Regions from separate parts of the Homo sapiens genome. Here region 2 is linked to region 1. The links come from fine-mapping of genetic effects on gene expression. A gene starts in region 1. The other region holds a variant in brackets. All regions are shown on one strand. Distances are between the middles of the regions.

What was found. PIP is the estimated chance that this variant, and not a neighbour inherited with it, causes the effect.
Region 2: its variant is fine-mapped to the expression of ZNF672 in whole blood (TOPMed, PIP above 0.99).

What each region holds. Positions count from the first base shown.
Region 1 is chr1:248,833,650-248,841,983 of GRCh38, forward strand. ZNF672 (zinc finger protein 672) reads left to right here and starts at 4,575. Exons shown (of 4, transcript NM_024836.3): 1 at 4,575-4,902. RefSeq lists enhancers at 4,509-5,010, 5,011-5,510, 5,208-5,477, 5,818-5,897 and a silencer at 4,518-4,917.
Region 2 is chr1:248,801,274-248,809,607 of GRCh38, forward strand. It overlaps LOC124904577 (a long non-coding RNA gene), which reads right to left and starts at 6,245. Exons shown (of 2, transcript XR_007067008.1): 1 at 5,776-6,245. RefSeq lists enhancers at 1,372-2,571, 3,980-4,189. The variant A/G (reference allele first, on the strand shown) is at 4,008.

The sequences.
Region 1 (8,334 bases):
AAAATTGTGGTTAAGGACTAGGAAGCAATTTGTATTTTAAAGGAAGTTGATCTTCAGATATCCTCTAAACAAATATTCTACTTTTGTGCTATTCCAATTTTATCTACTTTACTATAGCTCTTCACAATTAGTTTACCTGTACAAATGTAAAAATAATTAAAGTAGCATTCTCTCCGATGGAATCGTGTTTGAGCCCTTGAAGTTGACCACAGACTGTAAGCAGCACAAACTCCAATAATTTTCTATTAAGATTACTGTTTAAAAGACATTAAATCCTCTGTGTCAAGCCATTAAGATTAATATGTGTGTTATTGATTCAATTTATGTTTTTGCTTATCTTCTTGTTTCCTGAAATCCATTTTGATATGGCTTTACAATATGTTTGCAACTTGCAATTAATACAAACCCTTATTCCTTAAACACTAAATAAAATCTTCATTTCAGGATTTAGTCAGCCAGTCTTTCCAGATCTTATTATTCTAAATTGTTAGATTTCACTTTTCTGTACTTGGTTCTTTCCTGTATTTGAAAACTGTGTCAGTTGACATCTGTGGAATTATTCGGGGAAGAACTGGAAGCTACCATGCTCTAGAAGCCAATATTTTTATTGTAACTGAAATTAGAATGTTTGAAGAATGGCAAACATTGTATTTAGCAATACAGGAATAAGATTCATGAAATTGAAACAGTCTTCTCAGTCCTTATACCCCCAGTAACACAGTAAGCCTTCAGCATCTGATTTTTGGCATTGTGAATATCCACTGGGCTCACATTTCAGACAGGGATTTGAAATAGTGGTCTATACCTTAGCCCTACTTACTTGCCTTTCAGTTGCCCCCAACAGCAACGTAAGCCATGTACTATGTGCCTGCTCTGCATGCCTATAACTTTTACTTCCCTTCCTTTCTGTCTCACTTCATAAACCACTGACAGTGCCCTCTAGCCAAACATAACCACCTTGATGCTGTTTGACTTACTTCAGCATTGGACATTGTCCACCACTTCCTCACATGGGAATCTAAAACCTGACCGTGTCCTGACCTTCTTCCTCCCCAAAGCCTTTACTGGCTTCCCCTTCTGCAGCTGCTTCCTTTTGGAGGCTGGTGCTCTAGGTATGGTGCCTTCAGCCCCTACTAATCCACCTATAGCCTCTTAGAAATGTCATCCACGCCCACGGCTTCGCGTATTCGCCTCTAACTTCCTAGTCTTTACAAATCCTGATACACCATGGCTCCTCCTCTTCTCACTGAGGGAGGCCTACACCCTTGGGTATGGGATAGACTCTATACTGTAAAGGAACATAATTTATTCATCTCTATATTTCTATTACCCAGCCAGGTGCAGACTCAGTGGGTCCTCAATAAAAGCTTCTGAAAAGGAGGAATTCCTTGATTTAGCCCAAAACTTATTTGCATTTCCTCTTCCAATACCTTCACCCACTCTACCTTCTTGAATTCCTGTCCCACCCCACTCAGCATCTTCCACAGGATTCTGAGCCTCCTCCACTCACTCAGTCTGGATTGAGTGCATGCTCACTCCCTTCCTGTTCATCTAATCCCTCTGCCTGACCCAGTCCCATCACTTATATTGCAGAAATCTGCCACTGGGGGTGTGTGGTGGGAGGTGAAAATCATTGTCACCTCCATCCACAGATCCCTATACAAAATCTTGGCTACATGCTGAGCCAATGAAGTTTACTGATGACCTATTGCAGAATTACCCTATTCTTCCTGTTGTACCTTTATACCACTTTGTACTTTGCACATGATGGGATGGCAAGGTCTGTGGGCGGGGGGAGCGGTTGCCATCCCTCAGCATGTCCTCAAAGGACTCAGTCTCCATTTTGTCTCCGATACTCAGCCCATTTCTTTGCACATAGCAGGTGTTCAGAAATGTGCATCCAGCCTCTGACTCTGCCCTCAAGCTTATAATTTAGTAGGAGAAATAAAGTATGCACATTATTCTAAAGTACATGGTGGCCAGGCATGTTGGCTCTTGCCTGTAATCCTAGCACTTTTGGAGGCCGAACACAGCAGATCACTTGAGGCCAGGAGTTCAAGACCAGCCTGAGCAACATGGTGAAACCCCATGTGTACTAAAATTACAAAAATTAGCCAGGCATGTTGGTGCGTGCCTGTAGTCCCAGCTCTTTGGGATGCTGACACACAAGAATCACTTGAACCTGGGAAGCGGCTTCAGTGGGCCGAGATCATGCCACTGCACTCCAGCCTGCGTGACAGAGCAACACTCTATCTTGAAGTACATGGTAAAGGATGTAAATAACAGAGTAAGTGTCTTATGCATCTTGTGGCTTGCAAAGATAATAAATACTTAGGGAATTTCTGGGTGAACAATACTAGTGGTCTTCAGAAAGAAGATAGTTTTCACTTTGAGAGTGGGTTGGTGTTTGAACAGAAGTCTGAAGGATAAGTAGGACTTTGGTAGACAAGAAAAAGTGAAGGAACAGGAGAAGTGTATGCCAAGCTGAGAGAAACGTAGAAGGTAGGTGGGGAGTGATCCAGTTTAATGGAGAGTTTAAGAGAACAGACTGGAAAGACAGGTTGGAATAGGTGAAAGAGGGTCTTGAATATTACACCAGAAGAGTAAACTTCATTTGGTGATTGTACAGACTTTTTTGACTATTACTGAGCAGGAATGTGATACAATCAGAACTTTGGGGAGATTCATCTGGTAGGTTCACAGCTGTTATCTCCAACGTCTAGAATACTACCTGGCATATAGTAGACCTTCCATAAACATTTTGAGTATTTACAGAACCACATTAAGAGTTGTCATTTATTGATGTAGATGTGTAGAGAAATAAAACCATTTGGATGTGATATTTTTAATTGACAAATATACACATAACTTCATCCTTGAACTTTCTTTCACTACCCTCCATCTTCCTGTTACAATTATCATCCCCCACTGTGATGACTTCCATAACATAGGAAACCTAAATCCAGCTTCCTGTTCTTTCCCCCCATTGTTTGAGTTTTTCCCTCCAAAGCTACACAGAAGAAAGTCATCTAATCCAGTCCTCTTTCACATGAAAGTTTGTTAGAATTTGTGTACAGTCATTATGTGCACAAAAAATGTTTCTCTTTCTAGGTTAAATATCCCCAGCCCCTTTAATTATGTGACCACCCTAGTCACCATCCTCTTCATGTCTCTGGGATTAGCCAAGTGTGTCAGTGTCCTTAAAAACATGACATCAGTACTGAGCAATGAGTCCAGAAATGTCTAAATTAGTACATTTCTCTGGCTTAAAGACTCTGGAAATATCCTCAACTAATCATTCTCTATATAATACTACCTTATCTGTGTATGATTCTTTACAATAAAAATATATATACTTCAAGCGCATTTTCCATGTCTCTCTCAATGTTATCCCTTCCTGGTTCAGGCCCTGATCACTCCAGACCTGCATCCTGTGTCTTGCTTTTCAGCTTTCTTGCCTGCTGCTACCAGATTTGTCTTCCTTAATCCGTGTTGTCATATGCGGGTCAGCAAACACTCATTGATCATCTGTGGCGTGCTGGCCCTCTGCTCATGCTTCAAGGGATCAATTGTTCATGAGTAGGACAAGGCCTGTCCCTTAAGCTATGGGGGAACAGTATTCATCTGACTATAACAACAGTATCAACATGCGGGAGGTTGCGCTGCAGCATAGATATGTCCCCAGGACTGAGGACAGAGAGGGGCATTCTAGCATAGGTTTATGGAGATGGCATTTGACTAAGGTTTTACAAATTAAAACAGAGAAGAGGGTAAGAGTTTTCCAGGCCAAGCATGGCAGGTCGAAGTACACTAATTAGGGGACCCCCTGAGCAGAGCTCAGAAGAGTGGTACTAAGTGACCTCCAAAGGAAGATTACAGCAGTAAAGGACCTTGAGGGCCATCCCTGGGCGTCTGTTCTGATGATATAGGCACACTAAAGGATGGCCAGGTTCCCAAAATGCATTTCCGGAAAGGAATACTAGTAGCATTTCCTAGTAGAAGACATTAGGGTCAACATTTGGACAGGCAGTTCAACCAGGAAGCTCATGGAGAGGCAGCTGGCAAGCCGACCAGGAGTAACCCCTATCCCTGGCATTGCGACTTTGGGCGTATCATTAACTTGTGGGGTCCTTACCTAAAATACAGGATAAATGCTCATATTTCCCCTGGCAGGGTTGTGGTGAGGGTTGAGAGATAATAGCTATCCAGTCTGGCCTCACTTAATAAGAAGGCGCTAACTTAACTACGGGGATGGCTGCCGCGGCCCCGTCCGCGCCGGGCACCGGCTACCGCGCCGGAAGCACCGAAGGGTACACCTGTCTGTGTCCCGCCAGCGGCCGCGGGAAGAGCTGCTGGAAGACTAGACGGTGGACCGCCTAGCTCCCGGGACTCCGCGGCTGGGGGCTGAGGCGCGCGCAGGGATCGGCGCCCTTTCCTCTGATTGGGCGGGACGAGGCCCAGGGGTGGGCCAACAGACAAAGCGGGAGGCAGGAATTGGTTAAGCCAGAAGAGAGGGCGGGGCCTTGGCCCGCGCGGGAGGCGGGAGTGGAGTCCCCCCGCAGGCTTTCTCTTTTAGCCCCGCCTGCTTCCCGGCTCCAGCTGGGGCCGGAGAGGCTGAGTGGTTGGTACGCTGCTCGCTGGCCTCCCAGTCTTCCCAGCAACCGGTGACACTGCCCGCGCCAGACTGACCACTAGCCGACGCGGGCGAGAGGGACAGGAGCGTGACCTCCCCATCCCGAGGGGCCGGACGCTCGGGCGCCTCCCCGCTCCCCCCACTCGGAGGCCGCGCGCGCCGTTAGCCCCTTCCTCGCTCCCCCGCCCCAGTCCCGCAGTCCGGGAGGCGGGGGTCGGCAGCCGGCTGAGTGGGAACCGCGCGGTGTCTGAGGAGGCAGTCGGCGACCGGTGAGGGGACTGAAGGGCAGGGGAGGGCAAGGGTGGCTCGGGGCAGCAGTCCTCAGCTGTGGCTAGTCTTCTCCCATCTGCCTCGGGCGACTGGTGTCTGCGGCGGTCGGGAGCGCCGCCCGGGCTGCGAGTGACGCGGGGATACTGCGGGGCGAGCGATTGGCCGGACACGTCCGCGCGGCCTGCTCCTCCCAGGCCTTCCCCTCCGCCTGTCCTCGCTGGTCCGCCTCGGGTGACCTTTTCGGGGCTGGCGTCACCACGACAAACGTCGCCAGGCTGAGCCGACTTAAGGGGGCAACGGCCGCCACCGGGTTCTGGCAGCGTTAAACGTTCCCCACTACGTTTTTGGTGCCCGGTCTCGCCCTCCAAGTCGGCTGGCGCCACGGGCAAGGGGCTAGGGTAGGCTCGGGGTTGGGAAGGGGCTCGCTCAAAGAAAGTTTGCCCAGCAACTTGTGACGCGCGCCGACTGAGGCGCCCCAGGATTGGCTGCGCTGCTGTGGGCCACGGAAAGCGACCTGTTCAGGTGCCGTGTTCCGCATTCGGCGAATAGTTGTGCTTCGCTCTTAAGTACCAGGCACCAAGTCCCCAGATGAGTAGCCAGCTTCCCTTCTTTCATCTTGGAGCCCACAGTTCGCGCAAGTGGAGCTATGGAAGGCCCATGCTGTGCTGTTCTAATCATGTGAGGGATTCTTAGGGGTTGAGGGGGAAGGACTGAAAACGGCTGCAGACCGTTTAGGATGCCTGGAGTGGAGACAGGAGTTAAGCCCCTTACTCAGAGTCGCTCTTAAGAACTGCCCAGGGCCGGGCACAGTGGCTCATGCCTGTTATCCTAGCACTTTGGGAGGCCAAAGTGGGAGGCTCTCTTGAGCTCGGGAGTTCAAGACCAGCCTGGGCAACATGGTGAGAACCCTCGTCTCTACAAAAAAAATAATGATAATAATAATTAGCCGGGTGTGGTAGCACCTGCTCATAGTCCCAGCTCCGCAGGAGGCTGAGGCTGGAGGGTTGCTTGAGTCCAGGAGGGCGAGGCTGCAGTGAGACAGTGATCAAATCACTGCATTCCAAGCTGGGTGACAGCAAGACCCTGTCTCAAAAAACAAACAAACAACAACAACAAGAAGGACTGTCCTAGGCAGAGTAAATCCTAAGCACCGGGCAACCGCAATTCTCAGTGTTAGCAATTTTTTTTTTTTTTTTTTTTTTTTGAGACGGAGTCTTGCTCTGTCGTCCAGGCTGGAGTACAGTGGCGCGATCTCGGCTCGCTGCAACCTCCGCCTCCTGGCCTCAAGTGATCCTCCCACCTCACCCTTCCCAGTAGCTGAGACTACAGACGGGCGCCACCACACCTGGCTGATTTTTGTATTTTTCGTAGAGACAGGGTTTCACTGTGTTGGCCAGGCTGGTCTCGAGCTCCTGACCTCAAGTGATCCGCCCGCCTTGGCCTCCCAAAGTGCTGGGATTACAGACGTGAGCCACCATGCCCGGCAAGATTTAGCAATATTTTGACCTTTCCATATGAAACACTATAATAATAGCTTTTTTTAATTTATTTTTTTGAGATGGAGTCTCACTCTGTCGCCCAGGCTGGAGTACAGTGGCACTATCTCGGCTCACTGCAACCTCTGCTTCTCGGGTTCAAGCGATTCTCCTGCTTCAGCCTCCCGAGTTAGCCAATACTACAGGCGCGTGCCACCATGCCTGGCTACTTTTTTGTATTTTTAGTAGAGACGGGGTTTCACCATATTGGCCAGGCTGGTCTCGAACTCCTGACCTCAGGTGATCTGCCCACCCCGGCCTCCCAAAGTGCTAGGATTACAGGCGTGAGCCACCGTGCCTGGCCAACTTTCTTTACTAAAGTTTTCCCATCCAGGAGGATCAGACATTCCAAGTCTACTGTCTAAGATCAGACAGCTAGTAATGGGAGGAACCAGAATTTGGATGCCTCTCTGGTTCTGCTACACAGGTTGCAGGCTCAACTAGTAAACCAAAGCAGAATATTTGTATGTGCAGTGCACAGTGCTGTGGAGGATATGATGACTGTAGTCAGAGTATTTGTATGTGCAGTGGATAGTGCTGTGGAGGATATGATGACTGCAGTCAGAGTACTTGTATATGCAGTGGGTAGTGCTGTGGAGGATATGATGACTGTAGTCAGAGTATTTGTATATGCAGTGGGTAGTGCCATGGAGGGTACGATGACTGTAGTCATAGTATTTGTATGTGCAGTGGGCAGTGCCGTTCAGGGTACGATGACTGTAGTCAGAGTATTTGTATGTGCAGTGGGTAGTGCTGTGGAGGATATGATGACTGCAGTCAGAGTACTTGTATATGCAGTGGGTAGTGCTGTGGAGGATATGATGACTGTAGTCAGAGTATTTGTATGTGCAGTGGGTAGTGCTGTGGAGGGTACGATGACTGTAGTCATAGTATTTGTATGTGCAGTGGGCAGTGCCGTTCAGGGTACGATGACTGTAGTCAGAGTATTTGTATGTGCAGTGGGCAGTGCTGTGGAGGATATGATGACTGTAGTCAGAGTACTTGTATGTGCAGTGGGTAGTGCTGTGGAGGGTACGATGACTGTAGTCAGAGTATTTGTATGCAGTGGGTAGTGCTGTGGAGGATATGATGACTGTAGTCAGGCCCTTTCCTCCAGGGACCTAACATTTGGGAAAATTGGATTCCAGACTAATACATCACTTTTAAAAAGCACTGAGTATCTTCTGTGTGCCCAAGTCCTTGCTAGGCCCAGGGAAGGTGTGAAAGACCTTATAGTCCTTTCTCTCTGATCTGGGGGGCTCTGGCCACTCTGGGCTTCAATGTTGCCTGTGTCTCAGAAGGACAGGACAAGCTCCCACTATGTATGTTCTCTCCTTGTCTACATCCTGTTGCCTGTGTCTCAGAAGGACAGGACAAGCTCCCACTATGTATGTTCTCTCCTTGCCTACATCCTGTTGCCTGTGTCTCAAAAGGACAGGGCAAGCTCCCACTATGTATGTTCTCTCCTTGTCTACATCCATACCTTCTCTATACTTCCCAGATTTCACAGGAAAATCTTTGTGAAACCAAAACTTTCAAAAGAATATATTTGGGCTCGGCACGGTGGCTCACACCTGTAATGCCAGCACTTTGGGAGGCTGAAGCAGGAGGATCAACTGAGGCCAGGAGTTCAAGACCAGCCTGGGCAACATGGCAAAACCCCGTGTCTGCTAAAAATACAAAAATTAGCTGTGGTAGCTCGAGCCTGTAATCCCAGCTGCTTGGGAGGCTGAAGCGCAAGAATCGCTTGAACCTCGGAGGCAGAGGTTGCAGTGAGCCGAGATCACACTGAGATGGCGCCACTGCACTTTAGCCTGGGAGACAGAGTGAGACTCTGCCTCCAAAATAAAAAGAATGTGTTGGCTCATGATCAGACTTGAGCACTTGGGCTGAGAG
Region 2 (8,334 bases), 32 kb before region 1:
TTTTTATCTTGTAGAACTGGAAATTTTTACCCATTAAACAACACCCCATTTTCCTCTCCCCAGATTCTCTAGTTACCACTGTTCTACTTTCTGCTTTTGTAAGTTTGACTATTCTAGATACCTTATGTAAGTGTAATCATACAGTATTTGTTCTTTTGCGACTGGCTTGTTTCACTTAGCAAAATGTCCTCAAGGATAGTCTATGTTGTAGCATATGTCAGAATTTCCTTCCTTTTTAACGTTAAATAATATTCAATTGTATATAACGTATTTTGTTTGTCCATTTATCTGTCAATTGACATTTGGGTTGCTTTTACCTCTTAACTATTGTGAATAATACTGCTTCAATATGGGTGTGCAAATATTTCAAGAGTCTGTTCTCACATTGCTATAAAGAAATACCTGAGACTGGGTCATTTATAAAGAAAAGAGTTTTAATTGGCTCGTAGTTCTGCAGGCTATACAGGAAGCATAGTGGTTTCTGCTTCTGCGGAGGCCTCAGGAAGCATCCAATCATGGCAGAAGGCAATGGGGGAGCAAGGCCAGGTGACTTGCTTTGGCCAGTGAAAGGTGAGTGAAGGGACAAGTCTTGGGACCCCTGTGCACTGTTTGCCACATCCCTTCCACCTGCCGGAAAGATGAGGTTCTCAAACTCCAGGGTACACTAGAATCACTCTAGGGGTTTGTTGAAAGCTGCTGGGGTCCACTCCCAGCATTTCTAATGCAGTATTGCTGTGGGCAGAGGAGTGGAGGTAGGGGGCTGAGAATTTGCATGTCTAACAAGTTTCTGGTGATGTTTATATTGTTGATCTAGAGAACACATTTTAGGAACTAGAGTCATAGAAGGATCCTCCCTGGGCCAGGGTCTCTGAGTGATACCTTCCTATTGAACCATGTTTAAGATGAAGGTTGGGTGGGGAATAAACATTTTTCTGTTCCCATTTCACTGTGGGATTTTGATGTTTATAGGTGAAAGAACATATCCCACACAGAAGCATAAATCTCTCACAACCAGCAGGACCTCGAGAAAGAAACACCATTTTGATTAGAGGGGCTTTAGTTTTCCCTGGGCTCCAGGTACACAAATCCACACGGAATTAATGGTGCAGAGCTGTAGAGAGGCTCTCAGCCATGTCCTAAGGCACATTCTCCTCAGTCCTCTCCCACCTGGTACATAGGATACCTACTTCCAGGGGGAAATCCAAGATTTCCTGGGAAGACAACTCCTTTCCCCTGTGCCTTCCACGGGTCCTGCCTATAGCTTGAGTTCACTCACAGAATCTGGTTTCCTATTGTTGGATATCAAACACTGTTGGAGCCAACAGAGGGTGGGACCTGTCTGAAACAAGACTCATCAGTGATCTTCCTGATCAGAGCCATAAACCTCTGGCCGGCAGTCAGCTGAAGGATTCAGGCAGCACTGGGAACAGCCACTTCACCTAGGAACTTGGAGATAGGTCAAGATAAGGAGGGCTGTAAATCTAACTCGGGCTCAGCTAGAGTCCTGGCACGTATGAGTATCATTTGTGCTACCAGCCCGGTCACCTACGAGGCATTCCTCTTCTTGTCTCTGATGTCCCGGTCACCTACGAGGCTTTCCTCTTCTCATCTCTGATGTCCCGGTCACCTACGAGGCTTTCCTCTTCTCATCTCTGATGTCCCGGTCACCTACGATGCTTTCCTCTTCTTGTCTCTGATGTCCCGGTCACCTACGAGGCTCTCCTCTTCTCATCTCTGATGTCCCGGTCACCTACGAGGCCTTCCTCTTCTTGTCTCTGATGTCCCGGTCACCTACGAGGCTCTCCTCTTCTCATCTCTGATGTCCCGGTCACCTACGAGGCCTTCCTCTTCTTGTCTCTGATGTCCCGGTCACCTACGAGGCTCTCCTCTTCTCATCTCTGATGTCCCGGTCACCTACGAGGCTTTCCTCTTCTCATCTCTGATGTCCCGGTCACCTACGAGGCTTTCCTCTTCTCATCTCTGATGTCCCGGTCACCTACGAGGCTTTCCTCTTCTTATCTCTGATGTCCCGGTCACCTACGATGCTTTCCTCTTCTTGTCTCTGATGTCCCAGTCACCTACGAGGCTTTCCTCTTCTCATCTCTGATGTCCCGGTCACCTACGAGGCCTTCCTCTTCTTATCTCTGATGTCCCGGTCACCTACGAGGCTTTCCTCTTCTTGTCTCTGATGTCCCGGTCACCTACGAGGCTTTCCTCTTCTCATCTCTGATGTCCCAGTCACCTACGAGGCCTTCCTCTTCTCGTCTCTGATGTCCCGGTCACCTACGAGGCTTTCCTCTTCTCATCTCTGATGTCCTGGTCACCTACGAGGCTTTCCTCTTCTCGTCTCTGATGTCCTGGTCACCTACGAGGCCTTCCTCTTCTCGTCTCTGATGTCCCGGTCACCTACGAGGCTTTCCTCTTCTTGTCTCTGATGTCCTGGTCACCTACGAGGCCTTCCTCTTCTTGTCTCTGATGTCCCGGTCACCTACAAGGCCTTCCTCTTCTTATCTCTGATGTCCCAGTCACCTACGAGGTTTTCCTCTTCTCATCTCTGATGTCCCAGTCACCTATGAGGCTTTCCTCTTCTCGTCTCTGATGTCCCTCCCTCCAGCGTGTATTTTCACGTCTCTCCTCGTCTCTGCTGCTTCACTTTTGTCACTTTCTCCAAGTCTTTTGGGTTTGTCTAGCTGCAGATGTTTTCTCTCATCCTCATCATTTATGCTTCCAGATCAGTTTTCCTGTCATTCTTATTCAGCTTTTATCTCTGTCACATTCTCTCTGAAAGTGTCGTTAAATATATATACATATGTATGTATATACATTTTTTTTTTTGAGACGGAGTCTCACTCTGTCACCCAGGCTGGAGTGCAGTGGCGCGATCTCAGCTCACTGCAAGCTCCGCCTCCCAGGTTCACGCCATTCTCCTCCCTCAGCCTCCTGAGTAGCTGGGGCTACAGGTGGACGCCACCAAGCCCGGCTAATTTCTTGTATTTTAGTGGAGAAGGGGTTTCGCCATGTTGCCCAGGCTGGTTGCCAACTCCTGAGCTCAGGTAATCCGCCCGCCTCAGCCTCCCAAAGTGCTGGGATTACAGGCGTGAGCCACCGTGCCCGGCCCTAAATATATTTTTAACCAACCCAGAAAAAATTAAAAAGTATATCCCAGGTGGCAGGTGAACTAAATACCTGGTTCACTTTATTTAACCTCGGGTTTGTTTTTGTTAGTGTTATGAAGACGTAGCTCCCCTCCTCCTAAGGCCTCATGCCCTTTTCTGTTAACAGTCCCTTCCAATGGGGCAGCCATGGTCACTATTGCCAGATGCAACTGTTTGAGGGAATGGAGAGGATTGTAATCTGAGGCTTCTGAAATTGTAAAGTGAAAGAGGAGATCTGGTAAAAGGGGCGAAGATCAGCTGAAGGAAGGTCAGATGTGAGTACAGCAGCAACGGTTACATTCCCACCCTGGGCTGCAGAGGCAGGTGGGCTGCAGAGGCAGGTGGGCTCCTGGCCTCTCTCTCCAAGTGGAGTGGGAGGCTGAAACCATAGCAACACTGAGGTTAGCACACAAGGCAGGTGACATTAAGCAACATCCTCTCCTTCTTCCCTAAACCACAGCAGCCCCTGCGAACCTGTACAGCTCCATGAGCCTCCTCCAGCCTTCACTGCTGCCCCAGGCCCCCAGGCCCTTAAGAATTCCTGCTGGAAAAAAGCAGGCCGTGGCACAACTGAGATTTCCTTGTGTCAGTGTGAAGATGATCCAGCTCTTCTGCATGTTATTGCAGAAATCATAGAGACGAAACAGGATGGGGTGGCCTGGAAGGAGCATGGAAGATGAAGCCGCAGCTGAGGAAGAAGGCAGCTCTGCTGCTCCACTCTACCCTAGACCAAGAAGGTTCCTCTTTTCTAAATGGGGAAGAAACTCATTTTGACACTCCCTTCCTCCTATGTTTGAATAAATCAAGAAGCGTATCTGCACTGTGCAGTGAAAGCCACCTGCCTGCCTGGAG[A/G]AAGAGAAACTACTGCCCAGCACTCTGAGCTCTTCGACCTCTGGACGATGATCATCTCACACCCAAGCAGAAATATCCAGCAGCCCTCTGCTCCCTCCGGGCTGGGTCCTAACCAACTCTGGACTTGCTCAGGTTTCTCATGCTCCAACCCCTAACCCTGTCTGCAAACACATGCACCATTTCACATCATCCATCAGAACTCTTCGCATGGCCCAGCCTCCACTGCCAGCTGTATAATTTTAGTGCTTTAGATAACCTTAGAGGTTATCTACTGAGTCTGTCCACACTTCCGGCAGATTGGAACACTGAGGCCCAGAGGAGCTGAGTGAATTGTCCCTGTGCACATAACCCCTTGTGGCAGGGGCAGGCCAAGGGCAACCCTCTCTGAATAGTGTGGTCAGTGTTTTTAACACCGAAGCTCTCAAAAGAACTAATGTTTACTGAGCACCTAGAATGAGGGTGACCATATGTCCTAGATCACCCAAGTCAGTCCCAGGCCACACCTGCCCCCTTTCACACTCAGCTGTCCCAATTTAGACTATGCATCACGTATGGTCCCTGTACATATGTCTATTGTGTTATGTGTTGAGTGAGATGGAGTCAAGGATGATACTGACCCCTTCTTCTGAGGACTTAGGACCAACAAGAGACATGTCTACAACAACCGGCCCATTCTTCAGTAAGTCAAAAGAGCCATGGGGAACTTGAGAGTGATAAGGATTAATTCAGACTGGGCTAGAGAGGTGCCTGTGGTTGAATCCCAGCTCATGTGGACTTTTGACCACATGATCTGGTCCTCAAACCACAGGCAGCAGTTTGACAGTTTGAGAAGGGAGGAAACTTGTGCCAAGGGTAGCACAAGCAGAAGTAAGTCAGTAGACAGCTGTTTGGTGAAAATTTCCACATTCCAGGTCCTGAGAACACCAAGATGGGTGAGACACAGGCCCTGGGAGCTCAAGACAGATTTGGGAAGAGTGAGGATTGGGAGCCAGGCACCACTTCTCCAGTCTGAGACCAAGGGGCTGGTTCAGAGCTTCGGAGAGCAATGCCCAGCTGTAACCTCCCAGATTTTTCCTTGACTGCAGCCCTCATTAGTTATTTATTTACTTATTTTTAGAAATAGGTTGTCCCTCTGTCACCCATTCTGAAATAGTGGTGTGATCATAGCTCACTGCAGCCTCAAACTCCTGGGCTCAGGAGATCCTCCCACTAGCCTCAGGAGTAGCTAGGACTACAGGTGCATGCCATCACGCATTGCTAATTTTTTTACTTTTTGTAGAGTCGGGTTCTCACTATGATGCTGAGGCTGGCCTCAAACTTGGTCCTCAAGTGAGCCTCCCACCTTGGCCTTCCAAAGCATTGGGATTACAGCTGTGAGCCATTGCTCCTGGCCTGGTTATGTATTTTTCACTGCCCTGCACCACCTGTGCACACCTGCATTCCTTACCTGGAAGACCCACCCATGGCATTACAGTTTATAGTGTTCCTAACAAGGCCTACCACAGTGTTTGTACACTGAAAGATCCTGGTGAACATTTCTTAGTAAACTACACATATCCATTTGCCAGCCAGTGTATGGTCTCCTGGTTCCCTTATCCCAGGGCATGAGCAATGTGTTGCAGCCTGGGGCTCAGGAATGGTGAGCAGGCGTGGGTGGAGAAATTTATAAAGAGGCTGTGGAAAGGGAGAGGGAAAAGACACTAGGGAGGCCAAGGAAGGAGGTGAGCTCTGAGGAGAACAGGGTACATCTACATATCGAACATCTTACCTCCTGAGACCAGCTGCGCTGCAGACTTGAGCCAGCTCTCACACGCAATAGGTGATTCCGAGGACACACGGGAATGCAAGAGGCCCATGACAAGTACAAATAGGGTTCCATTCTGATGTATACACACCCCCACCCTTCTATGTGCAGTTTTTCAGGCCCTTCTGCAAAGTGCCCATGAGGCTGACCACGCAGGCTTGGAGGGTCAACACGCAGTGCGCGCAGGGAAATGCAGAGCCCAGGCTCTGCGCACTTTCTGGTAGCTGCTGCCCCCTGCTGACACAGCAAGACCTTGACAGCCCAAGAAGGTCATCTCCGCTCTTCCTGCCAGGCAGAGTAGGAGCATCTACAGATGGGTTGATTCCACACCCCACAAATACGTACAATTACAATATGTCAATTTTAAAAGATGTCTAAAGGCTGGAAGCATAACCAGGCATGGTGGCTCATGCCTGTAATCCCAGCAATTTGGGAGGCCGAGGTAGGGGGATCGTTTGAGCCCAGGAGTTTAAGACCACCCTGGGCAACACAGGGAAACCCCGCCTCCAAAATAATCCAAAAATTAGCTGGGCATGGTGGGACACACCTGTAGTCCCAGCTACTTGGTAGGCTGAGGTGGGAGGATCTCTTGAGCCGAGAAGGTCGAGGTTGCAGTGAGCCAAGATCACATCACTGCACTCCAGCCTGGGCTAGAACGAGTGTCACAAAAACAAACAAAAAAAAAGGCAAAGAGCAGTGGTTCAAGCCTGTAATCCCAGCACTTTAGGTCAAGGAGGGAGGACTGCTTAAGTCCAAGAGTTCAAAACCATTTTGGGCAACACTGCAATACATCTCTACAGAGAAAAAAAAAATTAAGTTAAAAATTAGCGGGGTATGGTGGTGTGCATCTGTGGTCGTAGCTACTAGGGAAGCTGAGACAGAAAGATTGCTCGAGCCCAGGAGTCCCACGCCGCAGTGAGTTATGATTGCACCACTGCACTCCAGTCTGAGCAACAGCGCAAAACCCTGTCTCATAATAAAATAAATATTAAAAATTAAATTTTTAAAAAGGCAGTGGGGTTGTCATGCTTGTCAAAAATCATATCCAGATGAGGAGGGAAACACAACCCTTTCATAGAGTCCACTTGCCTAGCGCAAGATGGGATGAAGCCTCCGTGAGTTAAGCACTCCGAGGCTGTGAAGAGGTGCTAACAGGAATCGCTGCACCTCAGATCCACTGATGTAGCAGCATGCCACACATGCCTCTATGCTCCCATTTTATAGGCGATAAAATTGAAGCGTCATGAAATTTGAGAATTCCCATAGAGATGTGATCCTGGGATTGTGCATCACCAGGTCCTGACCTCCAAACTGCTGTACTGATAAACCCACCTGATACAGCTGTGGGCTAAGAGAAGGGGCAAGAAGCAAAAGCACATTTCCTGAGCATCTGTTGGTGAGAGCCTGTGTCAGGTGTTGGGTAGACTGAGGCCCCAGCCCCACACTTGAGGAAGATGAAGATCAGAACAATTCATTACCAACAGGCCAATGTAACATGTAACATGACACAGTACAGGAATGGGGGATGGGGCCCTATGTCCCCCACACCTTGACCATCTCTTCCTCACCTTAAACAAAATTTCTCGACCCTCTTTGCTGGGAGAAGGAGCTAAGAAACAGTATTCCCACTTCTCATCTCTTCTTCCCAGCAAAACTTCCTCGGAGATGACTACCTCCACTTCCTCACCTCCTGTTCCTGTGAGCCCAGTGGTTCAAGCGTTTGGACTCTAGAGTCCAAGTGCCTAGTGGGAGCCGCCTCCGTTACCTTCAGCAAGGCTGAGTACCCCCCATTGTGCCTTATTTTCTTACCGTGGAAAGGAAATCATAGTGTTTATCTGTCCTATAACATTGTTGTAGAGATTAATTAGGGGCGTTCCTGGTACGTGAAATGCACTGGATGAGTACAAGTTACTACAACGAGGGTGGGAGGGAGGGAGCTCTTCGGCTTCTGTCTTCTTCTCCTTAGAAGTACCATTGGCTCTAACCTTCCTGGTCTCTCTTCCCGCCTGCCGCATCTTCTAGGTGATTTTGCAAGGAGAAACGCACGTGCATGGCATAGCCCTTCTTTTCTAGGGCTCTTCTGTACCAGGAGCCTCACAGGTCCTGCCTGCCAGTGACTGGGTAGGGAAGTCCAGCACTGTGTGTCATCTCAGAAAGCCCTTCATTAGGACTATAATACTGTATTATAGACTGAAAATTTGCTGAGAGTAGATTTTAGGCGGTTTCACAACAAAAAAGGGGGGAGGTAACTGCAAAATGATAGGCCAATTTGATACCTATTTCATTATGTGCATCAAAATACCATGTTGTTCACCTCCTATACATACAATTTAAAAAATTTAAAAAGCCCACTCACCCAAAAACATATGCTATGCATTTTCATAGCAGCTTTTCTAGTAATAAAATATTATGACACCCATCTGCCAAGTCAGGGAAGGCAATCTCAAACTCCTGGACAGCACCCATCCAAAGGCACAGTGAGTGCTCAGCACATAGCGGCCCCAGATGGCCCCTCAGATGGCG